3 separate regions of the Homo sapiens genome follow, and all the other regions are linked to region 3. The links come from fine-mapping of genetic effects on gene expression. A gene starts in region 3. Each other region holds a variant in brackets. All regions are shown on one strand. Distances are between the middles of the regions.

What was found.
Region 1: its variant is fine-mapped to the expression of BTBD1 in whole blood (INTERVAL, PIP above 0.99).
Region 2: its variant is fine-mapped to the expression of BTBD1 in whole blood (TOPMed, PIP above 0.99).

Annotation. Positions count from the first base shown.
Region 1 is chr15:83,029,168-83,037,350 of GRCh38, forward strand. BTBD1 (BTB domain containing 1) reads right to left here. Exons shown (of 8, transcript NM_025238.4): 5 at 969-1,161. All of the region lies in intron 1 of LOC124903542 (a long non-coding RNA gene), which reads left to right. Among named protein-coding and RNA genes, the nearest start is that of C15orf40, 22 kb to the left of the region's middle. The variant C/CA (reference allele first, on the strand shown) is at 4,923.
Region 2 is chr15:83,089,384-83,097,566 of GRCh38, forward strand. LOC124903543 (a long non-coding RNA gene) reads right to left here. Exons shown (of 2, transcript XR_007064743.1): 2 at 5,993-8,183. It also overlaps the pseudogene LOC124903588. Among named protein-coding and RNA genes, the nearest start is that of TM6SF1, 14 kb to the right of the region's middle. The variant T/C (reference allele first, on the strand shown) is at 3,589.
Region 3 is chr15:83,062,589-83,070,771 of GRCh38, forward strand. BTBD1 (BTB domain containing 1) reads right to left here and starts at 4,664. Exons shown (of 8, transcript NM_025238.4): 1 at 4,163-4,664. The coding sequence starts at 4,563. MIR4515 (microRNA 4515) reads left to right here and starts at 4,747; the gene lies at 4,747-4,827. RefSeq lists silencers at 3,982-4,151, 4,392-4,871, 6,748-6,797 and enhancers at 4,932-5,051, 5,062-5,111, 6,549-6,843.

The DNA of each region.
Region 1 (8,183 bases), 33 kb before region 3:
ACTTAAGATTTATAATAGTCCCACATCCAACCAGATTTTTCTGTTTTAACAAACTTGTTAATTTCCAGTTTTATACTGAAGTGCTATTAAATAAATGAAAATCCAAAAGTCATGTTTTGTGAAAACCGGCACTGATTCTATTTTGACATTCAACCTAAAGAAACACAGTACAGCAAAGACAATTTCTTCAACAGGATTATACGCATGCATTTTTCAAGATTCTTGATTTTTTTCTCAAGGCTTTTATAAATGTATACTGAGATACTTTCCCTGCAACATCTATGCAAAGAAAAAACTCACACTAAACATAGTAAGGTTACATTTATTAATTGTAGCCCTAAGCCTGTAAAAATAACGTTTGATCAATTAAGGTCTAGAACTCAGCCCACTGGCAGTGGTGATCCAAACAAAAATCATGTAACAGCTGGGCGTGGTGGCTCACCCCTGTAACCCCAGCACTTTGGAAGGCTGAAGCAGGTGGATCACTTGAGGTCAGTAGTTCGAGACCAGCCTGGACAACATGGTGAAACCCCGTCTCTACTAAAAATCCAAAAAGATTAGCTGGGCGTGGTGATGCATGCCTTACAGGTTACTCAGGAGGCTGAGGTGGGAGGATCGCTTGAACCCAGAAGGCGGAGGTTGCAGTGTGAGAGATCCCACCACTGCACTCCAGCCTGAGTGACAGAGCGACTCCATCTTGGGGAAAAACAAAAAAATCACGTAACAGAAGGTCCAACCCAATCCTTTCTTACTCTATTTTTTTCTTAAGAAGTCACCCTCACTCATAAATCAGTGAGGAGGGCAGGATGCCTCAGTGACTTCTTGACTCCTATATTAACTTAACTTAAAAGTGTATTAAATGAAGTATAAAATGAAATGTTGGTTAATTATCTCCCATAATATATAAAAAAGGCCAAATGGTAACTGCTACCCCCACTCTACCCCCGCATCCCCAATATAACAGATACCTGATTCGATCACTCGTCCCACTGTAACCCCAGCGGCTTTCTACTTGCTGGAATCTATTGATGCAGCATTCCTTTCCCCTGAGACAGCATCTTGGTCGGTCAATGTATTCAACTCGGGGTTTAGGGTTGACAGTAAAATGAAGAAAGAGGTTTACCACTTCACGATCTGACAAAATTCCAGATTGAGCAGGACCTGTGGAAATAAAAACATAAGCCTAAAAAAAGGAATTTGATTTCAATTCCTAACTTTGGAATTCACTTAACGTAAATTCAAATCTAGAGGACGTAACATAAAAATAGGGGAAAAAAATCTTAGCATATATAATTTTTGCATATATTTTAAGGTTTCAATAAATCCATTTGAGGTTAAACACATTAATTAAAATGTTAAAAGCATTAATTAGTCAAAACTTAGATCCAGGAATAAATGCTATTCCTCATGGATGCCAGGAATCCTCCTTTCTCACCTTATACAAAAATCAACTCAAGATGGATCAAAGACTTAAATCTAAGAAACCATAAAAATTCTAGAAGATAGCATCAAAAAAACTCTTCAAGACATTGGCTTAGGTAAAGAATTCATGACTAAGAACCCAAAAGCAAATGCAACAAAAACAAAAACAAATGAATGAGACCTAATTAAACTAAAAAGCTTCTGCATAGCAAAATAAATAATCAGCAGAGCAAACAGACAACCCACAGAGTGGGAGAAAATATTTGCAAACTATGCATCCAACAAAGGACTAATATCCAGAATCTACAACTCAAATCAGCAAGAAAAAAAAAACAAATAATCCCAGCACAAAGTGGGCAAAGGACATGAAGAGACAATTCTCAAAGGAAGCTATACATACGTGTGCATGTGTCTTTATAGCAGCATGATTTATAATCCTTTGGGTATATACTCAGTAATGGGACGGCTGGGTCAAATGGTATTTCTAGTTCTAGATCCTTGAGGAATCGCCACACTATCTTCCACAATGGTTGAACTAGTTTACAGCCCCACCAACAGTGTAAAAGTGTTCCTATTTCTCCACATCCTCTCCAGCATCTGTTGTTTTCTGACTTTTTAATGATCACCATTCTAACTGGTGTGAGACGGTATCTCATTGTGGTTTTGATTTGCATTTTGCTGATGGCCAGTGATGATGAGCACTTTTTCATGTGTCTGTTGGCTGCATAAATGTCTTCTTTTGAGAAGTGTCTGTTCATATCCTTCGCCCAGCAGACTTGGAACCAACCCAAATGTCCATCAATGATAGACTGGATTAAGAAAATGTGGTACATATACACCATGGAATACTATGCAGCCATAAAAAATGATGAGTTCGTGTCCTTTATAGGGACATGGATGGAGGTGGAGACCATCATTCTCAGTAAACTATCACAAGGACAAAATACCAAACACCGCATGTTCTCACTCATAGGTGCGAACTGAACAGTGAGAACACTTGGACACAGGAAGGGGAACATCACATACCGGGGCCTGCTGTGGGGCAGCGGGAGGGGGAAGGGATAGCATTAGGAGATATACCTAATGTAAATGACAAGTTAATGGGTGTAGCATACTAACATGGCACACGTATACGTATGTAACAAACCTGCACGTTGTGCACATGTACCCTAGAACTTAAAGTATAATTAAAAAAAAAAAGAAGATATACAAGCGGCCAATACACATAAGAAAAAATGCTCATCACTGATTATCATACATAGGCAAATTAAAACCACAATAAGGTACCACCTTACTCCTGCAAGAATGGCCATAATTAAAAAATAAAAAAAGAAAAATAGATGTTGGCGTGAATATGGTGAAAAGGGAACTCTTTTACACTGCTGGTGGGAATGTAAACTAGTACAACCACTAAGGAAAACAGTATGGAGATTCCTTAAAGAACTAAAAAGGACTGGGGGTGGTGGCTCATGCCTGTAATCCCAGCACTTTGGGAGGCCGAGGCAGGCAGATCCCAAGGTCAGGAGTTTGAAACCAGCCTGACCAACATGGTGAAACCCCATCTCTAACAAAAATACAAAAATTAGTTGGGTGCAGTGATGTGCGCCTGTAGTCCCAGCTACTCGGGAGGCTGAGGCAGGAGAATCACTGGAACCTGCGAGGCAGAAGTTACAGTGAGCCGAGATCGCACTACTGCACTCCAGCCTGGGCAACACAGCGAGACTCTGTCTCCAAAAAAAAAAAAGAACTAAAATTAGAACTACCATTTGATCCAGCAATTCCACCACTGGATACCTACCCAAAGGAAAATAAGTCATTACATGAAAAAGATACTTGCACGTACATGTTTATAGCAGCACTACCAACTGCAAAAATATGGAGCCAACCTAAATGCCCATCAACCAACAACTGGATGAAGAAAATGTGGTATACATACACCATGGAATACTACTCAGCCATAAAATGGAACGAAACAAAGGCTTTTGCAGCAACTTGGATGAACTTGGAGGCCATTATTCTAAGTGAAGTAACTCAGGAATGGAAAACCAAATACCATATGGTCTTACTTATAAGTGGGAGCTAAGAAACTATGAGGAGGCAAAGGCCTAAGAATGATATAATGAACTTTGGGGACTTGGGGGGAATGGTAGGAGGGAGGTGAGCGATAAAAGCCTACATGTTTGGTACCATTCCCCAACATGGTGAAACCCCATCTCTACTAAAAACACAAAATTTAGCCAAGGGCGGTGGTGGGTGCCTGTGATCCTAGCTACTAAGGAGGCTGAGGCAGGAGAATCACTTGAACCTGGAAGGTGGAGGTTGCACTGAGATGAAATTGTGCCACTGCACTCCAGGCTGGGTGACAGTCTTACTCTGTCTCAAAAAAAAAAAAAAAAAAACAGAATAGAATTGCATTCAAATGATAGATGGGAATAACTGTCAACCTTGAGCTTTCTACCCAGAAAAATATCCTTCAAAAATGAAGGCAAGCTGGGCTCAGCAGTGTGCCCCTCTAGTCCCAGCTACTCAGGAGGCTGGGGTGGGAGGATTGTTTGAGGCCAGAATTTTGAAGCTGTGAATAGCCACTGCACTCCAGCCAGGGAAACACAGCAGGGCCCCATCTCTTTTTTTAAAAAAAATGGTAAGATAAAGATGTTTTTAGACAAAAGAAAAAAAGAGTTGAGAGAATCTGGTTAGTATCCTACCTGTTTTAAAAGAAATATTGAAGAGAATTCTTCAAGCTAACAGAAATGTGCCCAGATAGAAGCACACATCTGGTCATACAGAAAAAAATGAAGATAACTGAAAGGGCAAATATATAGGCAAATCAAAAGGATTATTGACTTTAAAAATAATGTTTTGTGGGCTTTATAACATATGAAACATTAAAATACATGAAATAGTAGCACCAAAGGCTAGAGAAGGTTAAATATAGCAAAAGTATCAATAATGCCTTTATATTGTGTAGAAAATTTTAATTTAAAAATTTTAATTTTATTTATTTATTTAGAGACAGGGTCTCACTGTTGCCCAGGTATGGAGTGCAGTGGTGTGATCACGGCTAACTGCAGCCTTGAACTCCTGGGCTCAAGTGATCCCCACCTCAGCCCCCCAGGTAGCTGGGACTACAGGTGTGTACCACCACTCCAGGCTAATTTTTAAATTTTTTTTTGTAAAGACAGGGTTTCGCCATTTTGCCGAGGCTGGTCTTGAACTCGACTCAAACAATCTACCTGCCTCAGCCTCCCAAAGTGCTGGGACTAAAGGCATGAGCCACTGTGCCCCATCTAAAAAATTTAATTTTTAAGATTTAATTTAAAAATCAATAAGGATATATTCTTGTAATAACAAGGGCAACCCACTAAAATAATAATAAAAGAATCTTTAATACGGGAGGCTGAGGTGGGAGGATAACCTGAGCCCAGGAGGTTGACGCTGGAGTAAGCTGAGATCATGCCACTGCATTCCAGCCTGGGTGACAGAGGAGACACTGTCTACAC[C/CA]AAAAAAAAAAAAAAAAAGAAAAAGAAAAAGAAAGTTTAATAGACTATTAATCATATTAAATATAAAGTGAACCAAATATTCCAAATAAAAGGCAAAGTCTGTCAGACTGAATTTTTTAAAAATGAAGCTTACAAGAGACATGGTCAAAATAATGTAAGGCTAAAAGTAAAAGGATGAGAAAGATATAGAATTTAAAAAACCTTGAGAAACTATACCAATATCAGACAAAGACTTTAAAACAAGAAGTTTAGGCCAGGCGTGGTGGCTCATGCCAGAATGTTGGGTGACTGAGGCAAGCTGATCATTTGAGGCCAGGAGTTCGAGACTAGCCTGGCCAACATGGCAAAACCCCATCTCTACTAAAAATACAAAATTTAGCAGGGTGTGGTGGTGCACACATGTAGTCCCAGCTACTAAGGAGGCTGAGGCATGAGAATTGCCTGAACCCAGAAGGTGGACGTTGCAGTGAGCCAAGATTGTGCCACTGAACTCCGGCCTGGGTGACAGAGGGAGACTGTCTCAAAAAATAAAATAAAAAACAAAAACCCACAATAAGTTTAGATTTAAGATGAGATAGACTGTAAAGATAAAGAAGCAAATTCAATATAAAAAAAAATCCTAAATTTGAAGGTACCTAAAATAAAGAAGAAAATAAAGAAGAAAACTGATGGAACCAAAAGGAAACACATTCTCAATCATACCCTGAGATTTAAATCTACTTCTTTTAGTAACTGATAGAACAAAAAGCAAATCAATAGATAGATACATAGAAAATTTGAAGATCATTAGTATATATTCCTTTCATAGATATAGTATTCAATCTGTTGAACAGATACAGGACTATTCAGGTTTTTCTGCACATAACAAAGAAGAATACATTCTTCTCAAGTATACATGGATACTTATTACAACTACCGTATGGGCCAGGCACGGTGGCTCATGCCTGTAATCCTAGCATTTTGGGAGGCCATGATGGGTGGATCACCTGAGGTCAGGAGTTTGAGACCAGTCTGGCCAACATGGTGAAACCCTGTCTCTACTAAAAATATAAAAATTAGCCGAGCGTGGCACCGCATGCCTGTAATCCCAGCTACCGGGGAGGCTGAGGCAGGAGAATCGTTGGACCCCAGGAGGCGGAGGTTACAGTGAGCCAAGATCATGCCACTGCACTCCAGCCTGGGTGACAGAGTGAGACATTGTCTCAAAAATAAATAAAACAAAATAATAAAAAATAAATAAAACTACCATATGCTGGGCCAAAGCAGATATCAACAAATTTCAAAGCATTGAAATGATATAGAATATATTTTCTGACTATACTGGAATTAAGACAGAAATCAGCAAGAGCAAGATAAGAAGAAATCTCAAATATTTGGAAATTAAGTTATCTATAATTTATGAGTCAAAGAAAAAAAAAGCAAAAATTAAAAATTCTTAATCGAATGCTAATGAAAATACACATATTAAAAACTGTGGGGGGGAAGGATGCTGAGAGAAAAAATATACACTTAAATATATGCATTCAAAAAGAATATAGGTTGACCTTCTAAGTATCTCAAAAAGTCACAAAGACTAATAAAATAAATAACCCCAGCAAATTAAAAGCAAAGAAAGGAAAGAAAGTAATAAAGAAAAAGGCAGAAAGTAATGAAATGGAAAACATACTGTAATAGAGAAAATTAATAAAGCTAGAAGTTGGTTCCAGGAGAAAATTAATAATACAAACTCTTGAACACTGGGGGAAAAAAAGGAAATATTTCTAACTTTTGTATGAGGACAATTTTGACAATTTCATTGCAAGAAAAAAAAATATATATAGACTAATTTCTCTCATTCAGTAGTCATAAAAATACATTAAAAATTCAGCAAATTAAATCCAGTAATATATAAAAAGGATAATGCATAACAACCAAGTCTGATTTACGTAAGGAATCCAAAATAGGTTTAAATTGGGAAATCAATTAATGTAGTTCACTATATTCACAGAATAAGGGGGAAAACTGTATCATTACCAAAAAAAAAAAAAAAAAAGAATAATAGCTTGATTCCTCTAAAAGAAAGCAAGAAAGGAAAAAAAAAAAAAAGATGTGACAAGTAGAAAACAAATTGCAAGATGGTAAACATAAACCCAAATATATCTGTAATTACATTAAGTGCAAGTGAACCAAAACAGTTCAGATAAAAGACAAAGTCTGTCAGACTGGATTAAAAAATTATTGGCATATTCAACATCATTAATCATCCGTGATATGAAATTTAAAACCAAAATGAAATACGTCCTCACATCCACACAAATGGCTAGAACTACAAAAACTGACAATACCAAGTATTGGAGAGGATGTGGGCAACCAAAACAAACTCTTATGTCTCTTCACTTTGTTGATGAGTGTAAACTGTTACAACCACTTTAAGGGACTGTTTGGCAGGATGGCAGGATCTACTAAAGCCGACCATATGCACACTCCATGACTTAGCAATTCCACTCGTATATATCCAACAGAAATGTTTACGTATGTATACCAAATCACACGTACAAGAATGGCCTCAATGGTCCCCAAACAGAAATAATCCATATATCCAACAACAGTAAAATGGATAAATCATGGCACAGTTGTATAACAGAATATTATAAAGCAATGAAAAAGAATGAACTACTGCCACACTCAACCACATGGATGAATCTAACAGGCGTAATGTTAAGAGAAAGAAGCCACACAAAAATGAATACACACCATATATATGATTTCCTTTATATAAAGTTTACATATGGACACAACTAATTTATAGAAGACAGAAAGTAGTCACCTTTCAGAGGGAGATTAGTGACTTAGAGGGTCATGACAAAGGCTTCTGGGGTACTAGTACAGTAGGATAAATTGGTTAAATAAGTATGTTCACTTTATTTGTTAATTTTACTATATGGATGTTAAACTTTAATTTCAAAAGTTTATTTAAAAAAAACCCAAACACTGATTCTTATCAGCAAAAACAAAAACAATCTTGGAGAAAATTGGAACAAGTATAAGTCAGAAAAAAAAATTTGGTATAATAATAAATATACAAAGAATCAATGTAAGATAAACCAGTAAAACAAAATTTGAACACACCAACAGAACAACAAAAGACATGAATAATGTAAAGGAAAATAAATAGGCCAATAAGCATAATGAAATACAATTCAGCCAGGCACACTGGCTAAGAGGTGAAGGTGGAAGAATCACTTGAGCCCAGAAGCTCATGGCCAGCCTGAGCAACATGGC
Region 2 (8,183 bases), 27 kb after region 3:
CTTGTTGCCCAGGCTGGAGTGCAGTGGCGCAATCTCAGCTCACTGCAATCTCTGCCTGCTGGGTTCAAGTGATTCTCCTGCCTCAGCTTCCTGAGGAGCTGGGATTACAGGTGCGCGCCACCACGCCCAGCTAATTTTGTATTTTTAGTAGAGACGGAGTTTCACCATGTTGGCCAGGCTGGTCTCAAACTCTTGACCTCAGGATATCTGGCTGCCTTGGCCTCCCAAAGTGCTAGGATTACAGGCGTGAGCCACTGTGCCCGGCCTGGGCAAGGTTTTAAACCTTGCTAGGTTTCTATTTCTTCTTCTGTCAAATGGGGATAATAACATTGTTGTTTACCTACCTAGGATAACATAAAAGATCAGATTGTTCAATTAGACTCACAGGACTCAGTAATCTTATCCAGTATTGGCCTTTACTGAGAATTCGAAAGATACACATGATATTGAGACTTGGGCCAAGCACAGAGATGCTGAGGACCACCAGTGCAGCTCCCGGTCCTCTCTCGCCATATTAGGATGCACCCTGGCACAAAATGGACATAGGAGGTTTTTAAGTGATGCATGCAGGATATAACTTACACAAAGAGGTCAGGAAACACCTTCGTTTTATACTTCAGTAATTACACAGCTGACAGATCAGCTATATCCTGGTAAATTATTGCATAAATAAGGGCTTTTTGTTATCTTTCTGATTGTAAATGCCATCAATAAGTATTTAGGAGATTGGGCCAGGTGTGGTGGCTCACGCCTGTAATCCCAGCACTTTGGGAGGCTGAGGTGGGCGGATCACAAGGTCAGGAGATTGAGACCATCCTGGCCAACATGGTGAAACCCTATCTCTACTAAAAATTAGCTGGGCGTGGTGGTGCCTGCCTGTAGTCCCAGCAACTCAGGAGGCTGAGGCAGGAGAATCGCTTGAACCTGGGAGGTGGAGGTTGTAGTGAGCCGAGATTGTGCCACTGCACTCCAGCCTGGCAATAGAGTGAAACTCTGTCTCAAAAAAAAAAAAAGCATTTAGGAGATTGACCTGGGTCAATTCTTTTTTCTTTTTGTCCCCTTTCCTCAGATGTTCTGAAGGTTGGAAATATGACTTACTACCATTACCTAACAGTTATTTCTTCTTCTTTCCTAGTTAATACAACCTGATTTCATTTGGGCCACAACATGTACAAAGAAGGAATACCTGTCCCCAGGCCTCAGAGAAAAGTCATGATTGATTGAAGCTTAGCCCGTTCCCCTGCTAGAGATTGCTTCTGAACTCAGCATGTGGCCAATTATGGCCAATGAGATGGAAGAGTCTGGAAGCAGGCTTTTGGAAAGATTCTTGTAGCCTAGTTAAAGATAAAATCCCGGAAAGGGAAAAGCCTTGTGTTGACAAGCTTAAGAGTGAAAAACCAACGTGTTGAGGAGGAGGATTAGGAAGACATAAAGAGGCCGGGTTCTTAATGACATCCTTGAGCCACTGCAGCTAAAAAGGAAACTTCTTTCTCCAGGATTCTTATGTCAGATTTTCAAATGTCTTCATGGCTTAAACCAGATTTATGCATTCTGTTACCTGTAACTTCATGTGTTCCCAGTGAAAACAGTACCTTGTAGAGTTGCTTGAGAATCAAGACAGGCACTGAAAGTAATGCGTCAAGCATACAACAAGTTTCTATCTTATAAGCACTACCCAACATCTTTTTCTCCTTTCTTCCCTGGTTTATAAAACTTGATTTTATTTGGGCAGCCACAAGCACAAGGAAGGAGGACCTTGTTTCCAGGCCTCAGAGAAGAACCCAAATAGGTCTCAGCATCTCTCAGTATACCTTAGTCCTTTTAGTTCCCTTTCCTTTTCCTTCTCCCAGCCAGCTGTCATCCCTAAATTCTTCTGTGGTCCATGTTTCTCAACATCCATTTAATCATCAAACTCTTAGATTTGATTCCTAATTAACCTTTCCTTTCTCCTTTCGTTGCAGCCGCCATAGTCAAGACCCGTTCATTTGTAGCTTAGATTACTGCTCTTCTCAGCTCTTTGCTGCCTAGTTCATACCCCCTCACCTCATTCTCTGTATATCTACCAGACTAAGCTACTAAAATGGCCAAGCTGAGCATGTCACTCCTCTGCTTAAAAGTTTCACTAGGATGGGCGCAGTGGCTCACACCTGTAATCCCAGAAATTTGGGAGGCTGAGGCGGGCAGATCACCTGAGGTCAGGAGTTCGAGACCAGCCTGGACAACATGGAGAAACTCCATCTCTACTAAAAATACAAAATTAGGCCGGGCGCAGTGGCTCATGCCTGTAATCCCCGCACTTTTGGAGGCCAAGACGGGCAGCTCACAAGGTCAGGAGTTCAAGACCAGCCTGGCCAGCATGGTGTAACCCCGTTTCTACTAAAAATACAAAAATTAGCCAGGCATGGTGGTGTGTGCCTGTAGTCCTCAGGAGGCTGAGGCAGGAGAATCGCTTGAACCTGGGAGGCGGAGCTTGCAGTGAGCCGAGATCAGGCTACTGCACTCCAGCTTGGGCAACAGAGTGAGACTCCATCTCAAAAACAAACAAACAAACAAACAAAACACAACAAAATTAGCTGGGCATGGTGGCAGGTGCCTGTAATCCCAGCTACTCAGCTACTCAGGAGGCTGAGGCAGGAGAGTCACTTGAACCTGGGAGGCAGAGGTTGCAGTGAGCCAAGATCACGCCATTGCACTCCAGCCTGGGCAACAAGAGGGAAATTACATCTCAAAAAAAAAAAAAAAAAAAAAAAGGTTTCACTAACCTTCCTCCCCCGGCCAGGTGGCTGGGAGTTCCTAGATTATGCTGTGGGATTATAGCGTCTGGGCCATTCTACCTGCTCTAACTACCTTTCTTCTGAAAGGCACTCTCTGCCCTGGTCTTTCAGGGTTCACAGTCTCTATCTAACTAGCCTGCCTCCCTAGCTGAATTAATCACTCTCTCCTGATGAGGTTCAGGACATGTTACCCCAAAAGATAGCATCTTGGCATTTGAGAAACAGCAGAATTAGTAAGGTCACTCTCACCTCCCTCTTGCCCTTCTTTGGAGTGAATCATAAAACCCTCACTCCAGAAGTACCCTTCCTATGTGCAGAGGAAAGGGGCATTAGGAACATCCTAATCCTGAAGAGACACCAAGAAGAATCTGAACAAACAGGACTTGCTGAGTTCCCCTCAGTTTCTTTCCATTAGATCACATCCTCTTTGTCTAATCATACTTCCTCATGACTACCCACTGGCTGGGGCTGGTCCTGGACTGATAAGTACACACTTGATCTCAGCCAAAGAGCAGAGAAGCGACGGACTGACCAAGTATAAGGAGGCTCCAGACAACATGCAGACACCCAGCAGCTGGCCCTTTTGCTTTTACACATCATTGCCCCAGAGAAACTCCTGAGCATGTACACAAGGCAAGCAGTACAAGGATGTTCACTACAACATGGTTTGTAGTAGTGAAAAATTTAAACCTAGCACAAAAATGTGCAAGTTTCTTTGTTTCTTTTTTTTTTCTTTTTCTTTTTTTTTTATTTTTTTATTTTTTAAGACGGAGTCTTGCTCTGTCACCCAGGCTGGAGTGCAGTGGCGTGATCT[T/C]GGCTCACTGCAACCTCTGCCTCCCGGGTTCAAGCGATTCTCCTGCCTCAGCCTCTCAAGTGGCTGGGACTACAGGCCCACGCCACCATGCCCAGCTAATTTTTGTATTTTTAGTAGAGATGAGGTTTCACCATGTTGGCCCAGATGATCTCGATCTCCTGACCTCATGATCTGCCCGTCTCAGCCTCCCAAAGTTTTGGGATTACAGGCGTGAGCCATCGCACTCGGCCAAGTTTCCTTGTTTCTTTGGGTCTTCATTTGGAATATAAGCCTGTTTGCTTAGTTTTTTATTTCCTCTCACTACTTCTGCCTCAAATCCTCTGGTGAAAAAGTTTTTGTCTCTAAGACCTTCAAACATACTAGATAACCTAATAATTTCATCTTTCTTTAAGGCAGCCCTCCTGCCCTAAGCAGGACTGTTTGTCATCCAGGCTTGCTGTACAGCTGTCACCCCATCAATGCTAGGGGACCCCTCAGCCTCACTCCTGGGCTGCAGCTCCTGTTTCCTGAACCCCACGTCTTCCTCTGCATCGTGTACTGCCTGGTTTTGGTGGAGTAAAGACCCTTGGGAGGTAGATTTTTTTTGAAATCTTGCATCTCTGAAAATGCTTCTTTTTTTGCTCCTCTTACCTGATAGTTTAATTTTTCAAGTTCAAATCTCAAACTATCTTCATTAGATAATCTGAGAACACTTCCACTACAAAACACCTAAAAATGCTGGATACAGGCTGGGTGCGGTGGCTCACACCTATAATCCCAGCACTTTGGGAGGCCGAGGCAGGAGGATCACAAGGTCAGGAGATCGAGACCATCCTGGCTAACACGGTGAAACCCTGTCTCTACTGAAAATACAAAAAATTAGCCGGGCGTGGCAGCGTGTGCCTGTAGTCCCAGCTACTCAGGAGGCTGAGGCAGGAGGATGGCGTGAACCCAGGAGGCAGAGCTTGCAGTGAGCCGAGATTGCGCCACTGCACTCCAGCCTGGGTGACAGAGTGAGACTCTGTCTCAAAAAAAAAAAAAAAAAAAGCTGGATAAAATAGAACAAAATCATTTAAACACACATCCAAGCATCCAAGAAAATAGGTAAAAGCCCCAGAGGCTAGGAGAAAACTAAACTCTGGGACCTAGAGTCTATGAGCAACGTGGCACAGCTCTAGGGAGGTTGCCAGCTCAGTAACCTGGAAGCTTGGTTTTTGTTTACACCAAGTTAGAAGAGCAGGCTTTGAGTTTACTGGATGCAGAAAATGGATACTGACATCTCTGCAGAGAGCTGGGGCTTTTAAAGGTGATGTGGGGATAAAAGGGTGAACTAGCAAAAAAATGTCCCTGCACACAGGGAGACAAGAATGAAGACTATACGTCTTGGCCTGGACTCAAAGTAGGGTGAAAACTCTTGCTTGTTAATTTGTGGCCATTGTATACCATTGTTTGAGATTTGAGTTTCTGCTACCAGCACATTCTGGAAGCAATGACTCCCCTTACCCATCTGATTCTTCTGGCAACACATAGCACCTTTTGTGGATGTCTGGTTTAGGTTAAAAGGTGTTGTCTGTAGCTGTGGATTAGGAGAATGTTTCTCAGAGTGTAGGCTGCAGACTACTTGTATTGGAATCTCTGGGGAACTTGTTAAAGATTCAGATTCTTAGGCCTCACCCTAGAGCTAACAAATCAGAGTATCTGGGAGACTACATTTTTAACAAGCTTCCCAAGCAGTCCTTGGACACACTAAAACTTGAGGCCACTTGATTAAAGCCAAGCTGAGTGACTCTTAAAGGGCCTTTGCTTTCAGAGCTCAGCAGGTTAGTAAAGGAACCGGCTGGAGCTGGTCCTGGACTGATCAAGTACACACTTGATCTCAGCCAAATCACAGAGAAGCGATGGACCGACCAAGTATAAAGAGGCTCCAAATAACGTGCACACACCCAGCACCTGGCCATTTCACTTTTAGGCATTGGTGCCCTGGAGAAACTCCTGAGCATGTGCACAAGGCGAACAGTACAAGGATATTCACTACAACGTGGTTTAGAGTAGTGAAACAACTCAGTGGCCCATTAGTGAGGGGAATGAAAAATTGTGGTATAGTCAATACTCTAACAGTGAAAATGAGTGACCAAATGTATAAAAATCAGTGGATTTCAAAAACTTAAGTGAAAAAAACATGTAAGGATATTATTTACATAAACTTTAAATTTTTATAAAATAACTATATATTGTTTATAGGTAAAGTATATAAATATGGGTTGATCATGCCCCAATTTCAGGAGAGTGATTGCTTCTACAGATGGAGAGAGAGGACCAGGACTGCAGAGGGGATTTCAATTTTGTTTTTTTTTAAAAGAAGCATATTTTCTGCTCACCCCCTGCCCTCACCTCAATTTTTGTCAGTTACTGTTCTTACAGGGTAAACGTTTATAAAATTTACATTTTATTTTGTAACTCCAAGTAAGTTTTCTATGTTTTGCCTATAATTGTTTCAAAAATTAAAAACTTTTAAATAGCATTTCAGCTTTGTGACTATGTAAATATTATTAACTAAATAACCAATTGTTACAGCTCTTTTAGAATTTGTCTAGCAGGTTTTCTTTTTTTTGTTTGTTTGTTTTTTGTTTTTTTTTACTGGAAAACCCCCATTAAAAAAAGAACCAATTAATATGACTGGAGCCAGGGAATATTAATAAATGTAAATCCTCATGCCATTTGAAATGTTGGTCCAAGGAAATCCTTTTGGGCATCTGAAAATGATGAATCCTCTTAATCTCTTGCTGGCTTCTTTCACTTCTTTGGGGTTTCAATTTCTTGTATCCCATGTTGTCCTTTTTCTTGGACCCTCCTTTAATTTTTGCTGGAAAATATGTTTGAATAATTTTGTCATCCAAGGAATATGAACAGTAAATGTTCCAAGTTCTTGTATGTCTGAAAATGCCCTACGATTGCCTTTACAAATAACTGGTACTTCGGCAGGGTTTAGATTGTACCAAGCTTTTCTTCCTTGCTAACTATGAAGATGTTATGTTATTCATTGTTGTCCAGGATCCAATGTTGTTCATGTCAGGTGAAAGTTCTGTTTCTTTTTCTTTCTAGGAAATCCCCAAGATTTTAAGATTTCCCATTTATATTTGGAGTTGTGAAATTGTACCAAGATGTGTCTGGATTTTAATTCAATTTGACGTATCTTTACTGATGGCTCCAGGGTGCAAGGCACTGTTCAAGGTGCTGGGCTTCATTAGGGAACAAATCAAAGATTCCTGCCCTCCTGGAACTTACATTCTAGCAGGGGAGACAGGTCATAAATAATATGCATAATGCATAAGACAATTATGTAGTGTGCTAGTATTATATAGTGCTATCAAAAAAAGGAATAAATAGAGTAAGGAGAACTGAGAATGCTAGTGAGGGAGGTTTAATCTTATTTTTTTCTTTTTATTGAGGCAGGGTCTCACTGTGTTGCCCCAGGCTGGAGTGCAGTGGTGCAATCATAGTTCACTGCAGCCTCCACCTCCCAGATTTGAGTGATCCTCCCACCTCAGCCTTCTGAGTAACTGGGACTACAGGTGTGCGACATCACGCCTGGCTAATTTTTAAATTTTTTGTACAGATGGGGTCTCACCATATTGCCCAGGCTAGTCTTGAAATTCTGGGCTCAAGTGATCCTCCTGCCTTAGCCTCCCAAAGTGCTGGGATTATAGGCATGAGCCACCATGCCTAAGAGTTTAACCCTTTTACCTTAATTTTGTTCAGTGAACACTTTCAGTCTTAAAGACTCACATATTTCTTGAGCTTAAGAAAATGTTGTTCTGTGACTTCTTTGGGTATTCTCTCTCTTTCATTTTCTCTGTTCTTTCCTAATCAGACAGATGCTGGATCTCTGTGTCTGTCCTTGGCACTCTCTTATGTTTGCTGTCTCTTTGTTTTTCTTGCTCTACATTCTGAGATTCCTTGATTCCAGATCAACTGCTTGGTCTTTCGCTGCATCCAATTTATTATTTGGCGCACTTATTGAGTGTTCCCTATTGCAATCCCACTTTTAATTCCCAAGAATCTTTTCTTGTTCTTTGCTTGTTCCTTTCCCATAGCCACCTCTTCTCAGTTCTTGAATGCAGCATCTTCTCAAATTATTCTGAAGATAGTGACCACAATTTTTATAAAATCTTTCTTTCCTAAATTATCTCTGTTTCCTCCAAGGTCAATTTTTCTATTGGTCCAACTTGGATCTTCTCTTCCATGCTGTTGGTTTTCCTAATATATTTGCAATCTTTGGTTTTCTGTTTACGTTGATGAATAAAGGACTATGTTCATTAGTATGGTAGTTTCCATGAGTGTCTTTGCAGAGATGTGTAAGTCACTGTTAGGCCCCTTCCTTGGCTGACAGAATCATCTGAGGGTTCTTTGTAAGTAGGTGGGGCCTATCAAAAGATAGAAACCCTTTTAGGTTGTCTGAAGGAGAAGCAAACAGTCAGGTTAGAGACATTCACAGTAGTTCAAGTGGGCTTTACCCTCCACTGAGGGGTAGATCTCTTTAGTATTTCAAACTGGGGTCTACTTCATTCTCAAGCCCTATACCCCGCTTCAAACACTCCATGAGCCACCCTGGGCAA
Region 3 (8,183 bases):
ATCTATGGCACACAGTAAAAGTACTCATTAAATGTCAGATATTTTCATTAATAACATGTCCATCTGCATGGGTATAAAACATTACTTCACGATGGTCCAGTTGGAAATGAGGGTCTGGAGCTAAGTAGAGCTTTGGAGACACATGTGGGGGAATGAGTGCGTAAAGCTCTCACTTTGGTTGATGGGAGAAAGGATGAGAGCTGAGGACTGAATACTGAAGAACACTTACCTCGTGCCCCTTCCAGCCATCACGTCATTCTCTGTTCCCCTTTGCAACAAAACTCCTGAGAGGACTGTTTATACTGTCTCCAGCTCCTCACTTCCCATTTTCTGCCTAACCTACTCTAATCAGCTGAAATCACTCTTGGCAGGGTTATCGATAGCTTCCACCTTGTCAAGATTAAAAATCAACTCAAAGTCTTCATTATACCTGACTCTCAATAGCATTGAGCATAACTGACCACTTTCCACTTTCCATAGTTGACATTTCCCACTTCTTCTTTCTTGAAATGTTTTGACTTGACTTTCAGAATATAATGCTCCTTCTTTCTCTTCTAATTCCACTGACAGCTGCTTCTCAGTTTCATTTTATGCTTTTTCTCTGCTACATCTCTACATATTTGAAGATTCCAGAGCTCATCCTTGTACCTCTCTTCACAGTCTACATGCCTTCCTAGGTAATCTCACTTGATCTCTCGATTTAAATACCATTCACTCTTAACTTGCAAATTTATGTTCAGCAAGCTGTTCCCTCACCTCCAAATTCATATTTCTGTCTACTCTATGACACTACTTGGATGTCTTGGAAGTCCTCTTGGTTGTACCTTCAAAAATATATCCAGAATTTGACCATGTCTCATCATGTCCTTTGCTACCTCCCTGGTACAAGGTACAATTCACCATCGCCTCTTGCCTGGACTACTGCAAAAGCCTCTTCATCTATCACCTTGCTGCCTATTTTACTCCAACCACTGCCAGAAAGAGTTTGTTTTTTTAAAATGTAAATCAGATCACAACCTCCTGCCACCACCTCCGCCTCCCCAATCTCATTCAAAACTCTCCAAAGGCTTTCCATCAAATACCAGCTGAAAAAGTCTTCGCTCAGTCTCTAAAGCCCTGCACCATCCTGTCTGGCCTATCTTTTTGACCTCATTTTCTACCACTTCCCTCTACTGTGCTTAAGGCACACTGGTTCACTCTTGTGTTCCTCCAACAGGAGATACTTAGTGCCGAAAACAATGCGTTCCCTTGCTGAGAATGTTCCTTCTCTCATAACTTGATTATTTTTCTTCAAAACATTCATCAGTACTTGACATTGTATCTTTAGTTTCCCTTTACTAGATTATGTGCTTCATGAGGGCAAGGACTTTTTCTTGTTTATTGCTGTGTCCCAAACACCTACAACAGCCATTCGCTGTTTCACAAGCGCCCCAAAAGGGAGGCATATAGTATTTGTCAAACAACTGAAGAACATCATTTAAAGGTCAGGCAGTTCAAAGTGCACAGTTTCTTTAAGGGCTTCAAACTTAAGTTCATGAGCCTGTAAGTAATGTTAACTAATTCAGGATGTTTACAAGTATGCCCAAACTAACCTGCTCTTCCAACTTAGCAAGTACTATCAGGCATCTTTTTGTCACGTATTAGCTAACAACAACATCTACGTTACACAGCCAGCCAAAATTAAATTTAGAAATCAGTCCAGATATCAATTTCAAAATAGAACAATGACCAGAACCTGAAGGATAAATACAATGCTAGGAAAATAAAACACACTGAAAATGTAAAAATGAAAAAAAAGTTTAAAAATGTAAAAAATGTTTTACAATGTGAAAAAAAAAATTGCACTGTCCTACATTTCAAACACTCTAAAATTAACTTACTTTCTATTGATGGGAAAGCACTAATTAGCAGCTTCGGTGAAAATATTAAAATATGTATTTTTCCTCTACATTCTTATCCTAGTAATCTCAATATTTTTTCAAAGTAAAAAATTGCCCCAAAATAGTTTTAGATTTGTGGTTCTTAAATTTAGTTTGTATAAGTATCACTTAGGGAGAGTGTTAAAAATGCTACCAAGGTCTCACCTCCAAATATTACGGTATATAATGAGGATGAGATCTACACATTTCATAAGCACCCCAGAAGATTATAATGCAGACGGCCCACAGATCATTTTGAAAACTACTTCTAGTCTAGAAAATCCAAATGAACTATACCCAATCCTCCTGGTGAACTTTAAACTAAAATGACCTGGATTTTAGCTTTTGAGGTCCCCCCCCTTTATAAATGTAACTGAACTAAATTACAGAAAATATCAGAAACAAAGAATAAAGAAGAAAAAAAGGTACTTTCATCTCACTACTCCAGGTGACTTTGCTTAGCATTTTGGTATGTTTCCTTTTATCCCGGTCTCTAGGTATATGTTTGTTCCATGTCTTTTCACGTTGTAACCATGGTGCAGTTTCAAGTGCTATCCGTCATATTTAGTGACTGCATTATATCTCATCAAGTGAACCTACCACTGTTTAACCATTCCCTACAGCTGACTACTTCCTCACTACTATAAATAAAGCTGTAAATATTTTTGTATGCAATTTGCAATACTTGAATGCTTCTTACGTGTGGAAAGAAAATCTATAGCACCAAACTGTTTTCCAAAAGGGTTTTTACCACCATCTTTGTCAGAAAATGCTGTTCAGATGTTACCTTTAAATTTTTTGGTGGGATTAATGGAAGGAAAAAATACCACTGTCTTTTAATTTGCACTTCCTAATTACCAGCCAGGTAAAACATTCGTTAATTAGTTGTATTTTTTCTTTCTCTAAGTTATCTATCCTGTCCTTTATCCATTCGTCAATGGAATCTTATTATTTGTTTCTAGTTGTGTGAACTTTACATTCATTTTCTTGTTCATCTTTCTGATTCAACTGTGAACCTTTGTATCTAATTCTGTCCCACTGACCTGCCTGTTTTTGCTTCAGTACTACCCAAGACTCTGCCATTTTAATAACAACACGTTCTACTCAGGCAGCTATTTAAAACCATCTTAGTATAATGAAACAGACATGGTCTTCAGTGTGAGTTAGCTGTTTGTTACCTTGGGCAAGATACTTGACTCTTCTGGGCCTCAGTCCCATTTGTGAAATTGGGGTAAACAATTCTTACGCCTCCCTAACAGGATGGCTGTGATTAAAAGCTAGTAATGCCAAACAATCACCTTTTCATTAGATGTCAATCTACTATCCTCAAATAACCAACAAGCAAATTCTAACATCAAGGGAGGGATTCATTTATAAGCAAATGTGACCTTGTGTGTAGAAACACAAAGCAGGTAAAGCCTCACTTGTCTGTTTTCGTATTTACTTTCCTGGGTCTTGACAACTAATACGTTAATGAAAAACAAAAACAAAAACAAAAAAGTGGCCAGGCGCGGTGGTTCACGCCTGTAATCCCAGCACTTTGGGAGGCCGAGGTGGACGGATCGCTTGACCCCAGGAGTCCGAGACCAGCCTGGGCAACATAGTGAAACCCTCTCTCTACCAAAAATAAAAATAAAAAAAATTAGCCGGGCGTGGTGGCGCGTGCCTGTAGTCCCAAATACTCGGGAGGCTGAGGTCGGAGCATCACCTGAGCCCGGAGAGGTCGAGGCTGCAGTGAGCCATGATCGCGCTACAGCATTCCAGCCTGGGCAACAGAGCAAGACCTTGTCTCAAAAAAAGCGGGGGGAAGGGGGTGACAATAACCCCAAAACATCAGTCCTGCAAGATTTTTCAACTACTCTCTTCCCCCAAACAAAAACATAAAACTTCGCAAATGGGCAATCAGGACAACCTGATCTGCCCCTCTATCCTTGCCACTTGTCTAATTCTGAAGTCTGAGCGACAATCCATAATTGGAATGCGAAACGCCTTTCAATGGTAAAACGCACGCTTGCCTAATGAAGACACTAACGTTTAGTTGGCGACTGAGCCGTCCTGGTTCACAGATTTCGATTTCGACCCTCCGGAGCATCAACGGCTCGGGAGGAAACTGAGGCCCCGGGCGGGTCAGAAGAGCCCAGCCCAAGGTCATCCGGGAGTCCGGGTAGGCCGGGCCCCGGGGATCTCCCAGCCCGGCCCGGCCCGGCCCGGCCCGGCCCGGCCCGGCCCGCGCTGCCGCTCACCTCAGCAGCGCCAGGAAGGCTGCGGGCTCCACGTCCGGCAGCTCGATCTCGGCCGACGTGGTGGCCATGCCGCCGTTGAACATGGCGTCAAAGACGGCGCTGCCGGCCGCCAGCACGAAGCGGTGGGCGGGGATGCGCTGCGGGCCCCCAGCGGCGGCGGCGCCGCGACCCTTGCCCAGTACGAAGCGCACATCGCTCAGCAGCTCCGAGTTGAAGAGGAAGGCGAAGCGCTCCTTCAGCGACGCCTTGGTCGCCTGCCAGTTGTAGAGAGGTTCCCGCTGCAGGGGGAGCAGGGGCCCCAGAGAGGACGGTGAGGGCGGCGGCGGCGGCCCCGCGGGGCCCGGCTCCGCCTCAGCCCCCGACGCCTGCTCCCCAGCTGCGGCAGGCCCGAGTGAGGCCATCCTCCAGCTGCGCGGTTGCCCACGTTATGGACAAAACTCCGCCGCCATCGCCCAGGCCGCCTCCGGAGGCCGGCGCTGCCTCCCTGCCTTCCGGGAAAGGCGCTTCCGGGGGCCTCGCGCCTCCGCAGGCCCCTCCCTGACCGCGCGCGCCCCCGCACGCCCGGGTTGCCGCTGTGCGCGGCCGCGGGAGGTGTAACAGGACTGGACTCCCGGCAGCCCCAGGGCAGGGGCGTGGGGAGCTGGTCCTAGCTCAGCGCTCCCGGAGGTGGAGCTTCTGCAGGCTGGGTGCTGCCGGGCCTACGGGCACCCACCCCCTGGCTCAGTGCCCTGGGTATTCTGACTCAGTAGGTCTGGGGTAGGGCCTGAGAATTTGTAATTTTAAGATGCATCGTGGATCTGCAGGCGGCTCTCACGGCTGCCTTTTTCTTCCTGCAGGCCCCTTATCACCAAGTCCAGCGCCCCCATTGTGTATCTGGGACATGTCCCAAGGCCTGTCCCGAGGAGTGTTTTGCCTGGAAGTGGAGGGGCAGGAAAGTATGGCCAAGGGAACACGTGAGGGAGGGGATGACATGACTTCCCACAACCCTGTACCCCAAGCGTGGCCAAGTCGCCGCTCCAGAAGGCCGCGAAACCCGTGGAAATTCCGGAAGCAGAGGTGGAAGGCTTAGAACCCCAGTGACCTCTCCCCAGGTCCGCAGGTCCCTTTCCCTTCTAATTGACCCTTTGGTTCCGTCCTCTGGGCCTAAGAGACATTTCCTTCTACTGCTTCCACCCCTGTATTTGAAACCCCTCGTGCTTGCCCACCTTCTCTTGTAGCGCTTTTCAGTCCTTGCACTGAACCACTGCCTAAGCTTGAAATTTAAAAAATTAAAAACTAAAACACACACACAATGGAAAAGGCTGTATTATCCCTTCCCAGGCAGTATTTACAACCCGGTCATCATGATTGGGGGACCGAGGCCTTCCTTTTTCTCCCTTCAGTGAGGCAGGCCCTGAGTTAAGTCAGCTGTCAAAAGCAGAACGTAGAAAACCCAAGAAATAGTCCTTGACCAGGCACGTATAGTTGGAAACACCTGTTCTTTGCAGGAAGAGCCTTACAGATTACAAATGCCGTCAAGTAAATAGTAAACCCCAAACCTGGGTTTCTCCTGTAAAATCACTCCACTTGTGAAACCACCAGAGGGGACTTCCAGCTGTTAGGCATTTAGAATGGTAACTTCTTTGGGAGAGGAACGTGCTTGGGAAGAGACTTAAAGTAGTAGGGGCTGAAATAGTGGATGCACAACCCCTTCCCCATTGCCAGCCGGCAATTCCTAAAGACAAAGGGACATCATGCTACTAATGATACCATTATCACACCTAACAAAATTAACCATATCATCAAATCATCTATATATGATTTTTTTTTTTTTGAGACGGAGTCTCGCTCTGTTGCCAAAGCTGGAGTGCAATGGCATGAAGTCTGCCTTCCGGGCTCAAGCGATTCTCCTCCTCAGCCTCCCGAGTAGCTGGGGTTACAGGTGCGTGTCACCACATCCAGCTAATTATTTGTATTTTTAGTAGAGACGGGGTTTCACCATATTGGCCAGGCTCCTCTCCAAGTCCTGACCTCGTGATCTACCCGCCTCGGCCTCCCAAAGTGCTGGGATTACAGGCATGAGCCACCAGGCCTGGTCCTATGTATAATATTTAATGTACAGTTAATATTTGTTTCTCCACTTGTCTCTAAAAAAATTTTTTTTTGAGACGGAGTCTTGCTCTGTTGCCCAGGCTGGAGGGCAGTGGCATGATCTCCGCTCACTGCAAGCTCTGCCTCCCACGTTCACGCCATTCTCCTGTCTCAGCCTCCCGAGTAGCTGGGACTACAGGCACCTGCCACCAAGCCTGCTGATTTTTTTTTTTTTTTGTATTTTTAGTGTGTCCAGAGTTCGTTCCTTCTGGTGGGTTCGTGGTCTTGCTGACTTCAAGAATGGAGCTGTGGACCTTCCTGATGAGTTTTATAGCTCTTAAGATGGCAGGGACCCAAAGACTTCTTCTGAAGAGCAAAAGAACAAAGCCCTTATGTCATGGAAAGGAACCCCAACGGGTGGTTGCAGTCTCTGGGCGTGGGGGCAGGAGGGGAGGGGCCGGCGGGGGTGGGGGGGGTGGAGTCAGCTTTTACTTCCTTATTTGTCCCCGCCCATGTCCTGCTGATTGGTCCATTTTACAGAATGCTGATTGGTGCACTTTACAGAGTGCTGATTGGTCTATTTTACAGGGTGCTGATTGGTCCATTTTACGGAATGCTGATTGGTCCATTTTACAGAGTGCTGATTGGTCCACTTTACAGAGTGCTGATTGGTCCATTTTACAAACCTCTAGCTAGCCACAGAGTGCTGATTGGTGTGTTTTTACAGAGCACTGACTGGCACATTTTACAAACCACTTGTAAGACAGAAAAGTTCTTCAAGTCCTCACCCTACCCAGAAGTCCAGTTGGCTTCACCTGTCATTAGTAGAGACGGGGTTTCACCGTGTTAGCCAGGATGGTCTCAATCTACTGACCTTATGATCTGCCCACCTTGGCCTCCCAAAGTGCTGGGATTACAGGCATGAGCCACTGTGCCTGGCCAAAAATATCTTTCACAGATGACTTTTTTTCCAATCCAGGATCAAATCAATGTTCACATATTATTGACTGTGTTGACTTCTTTGAAGGTCCGGGGAATTGTGGAGTATAATGCTCCACAATCTGGATTTGTCTGGTGGATTCTGTATGATTCATGGTTAGATTCCAGGTTAAACATTTTAGGCAAGAATATGCTGGTGATGTTAAGTACTTCATTGCCTCACTTCAGAAAGCGTATGTTGGTGATGCTAAGCTTGATGACCTGGTGAGGCTGTGACTGTCAGATCCCTCCATTATGAAGGTGTATGATTCTTATGTAATAAGTAATCCATGAGGGTGATGCTCTGAGACTGTTTGACCAGTCTGTTTCCCCAAAAAGCTTTCACCTACTGATTTCAGTATCCATTGATGATTCAGAAAATTAATTCACTTACTACTTTTAAGTGTCATCCCAGGTATTCTAATGCAGGCCTTTCATAGATCACACTCTATAGTATACTATACTAGCTAGTTTAAAAGGAAAGAGATTAAAAAACATAGAATTGGACATAAGAAAGGATATATAAACATAATTGTGGAGTTTAAAAATATGAGTAATTCTATTAGTGGCTTTGAAAATATCAAAGGAATGTACTCGTCTAGAAAACCTGGACAATTCAATTATCTATACAGGACATTAAAACTTTCAAAATAATAACCTTCAGGGAAGACTGGTTCCAGATGAGCTCGTTAAACATGTTATTATTGTTTTAAAGGAAATGTTTAAAATAATACATGTTTGTTATAGAAGTAAGTAGACTTCCAGTTTCAGCCATAATGTACCAACTTGTCTAACCCTCCCACCAAAAACAACTATACAAGCTGGAGTGTGTGTGTGTGTGTGTGTGTGTGTGTGTGTGTGTAAACAACTGTTTGAAGGCATTGTTAAAGAAAAAAATTATTCTGGGCTGTTGCAGTGGCGCACGCCTGTAATCCCAGCACTTTGGAAGGACAAGGCAGGCAGATCACCTGAG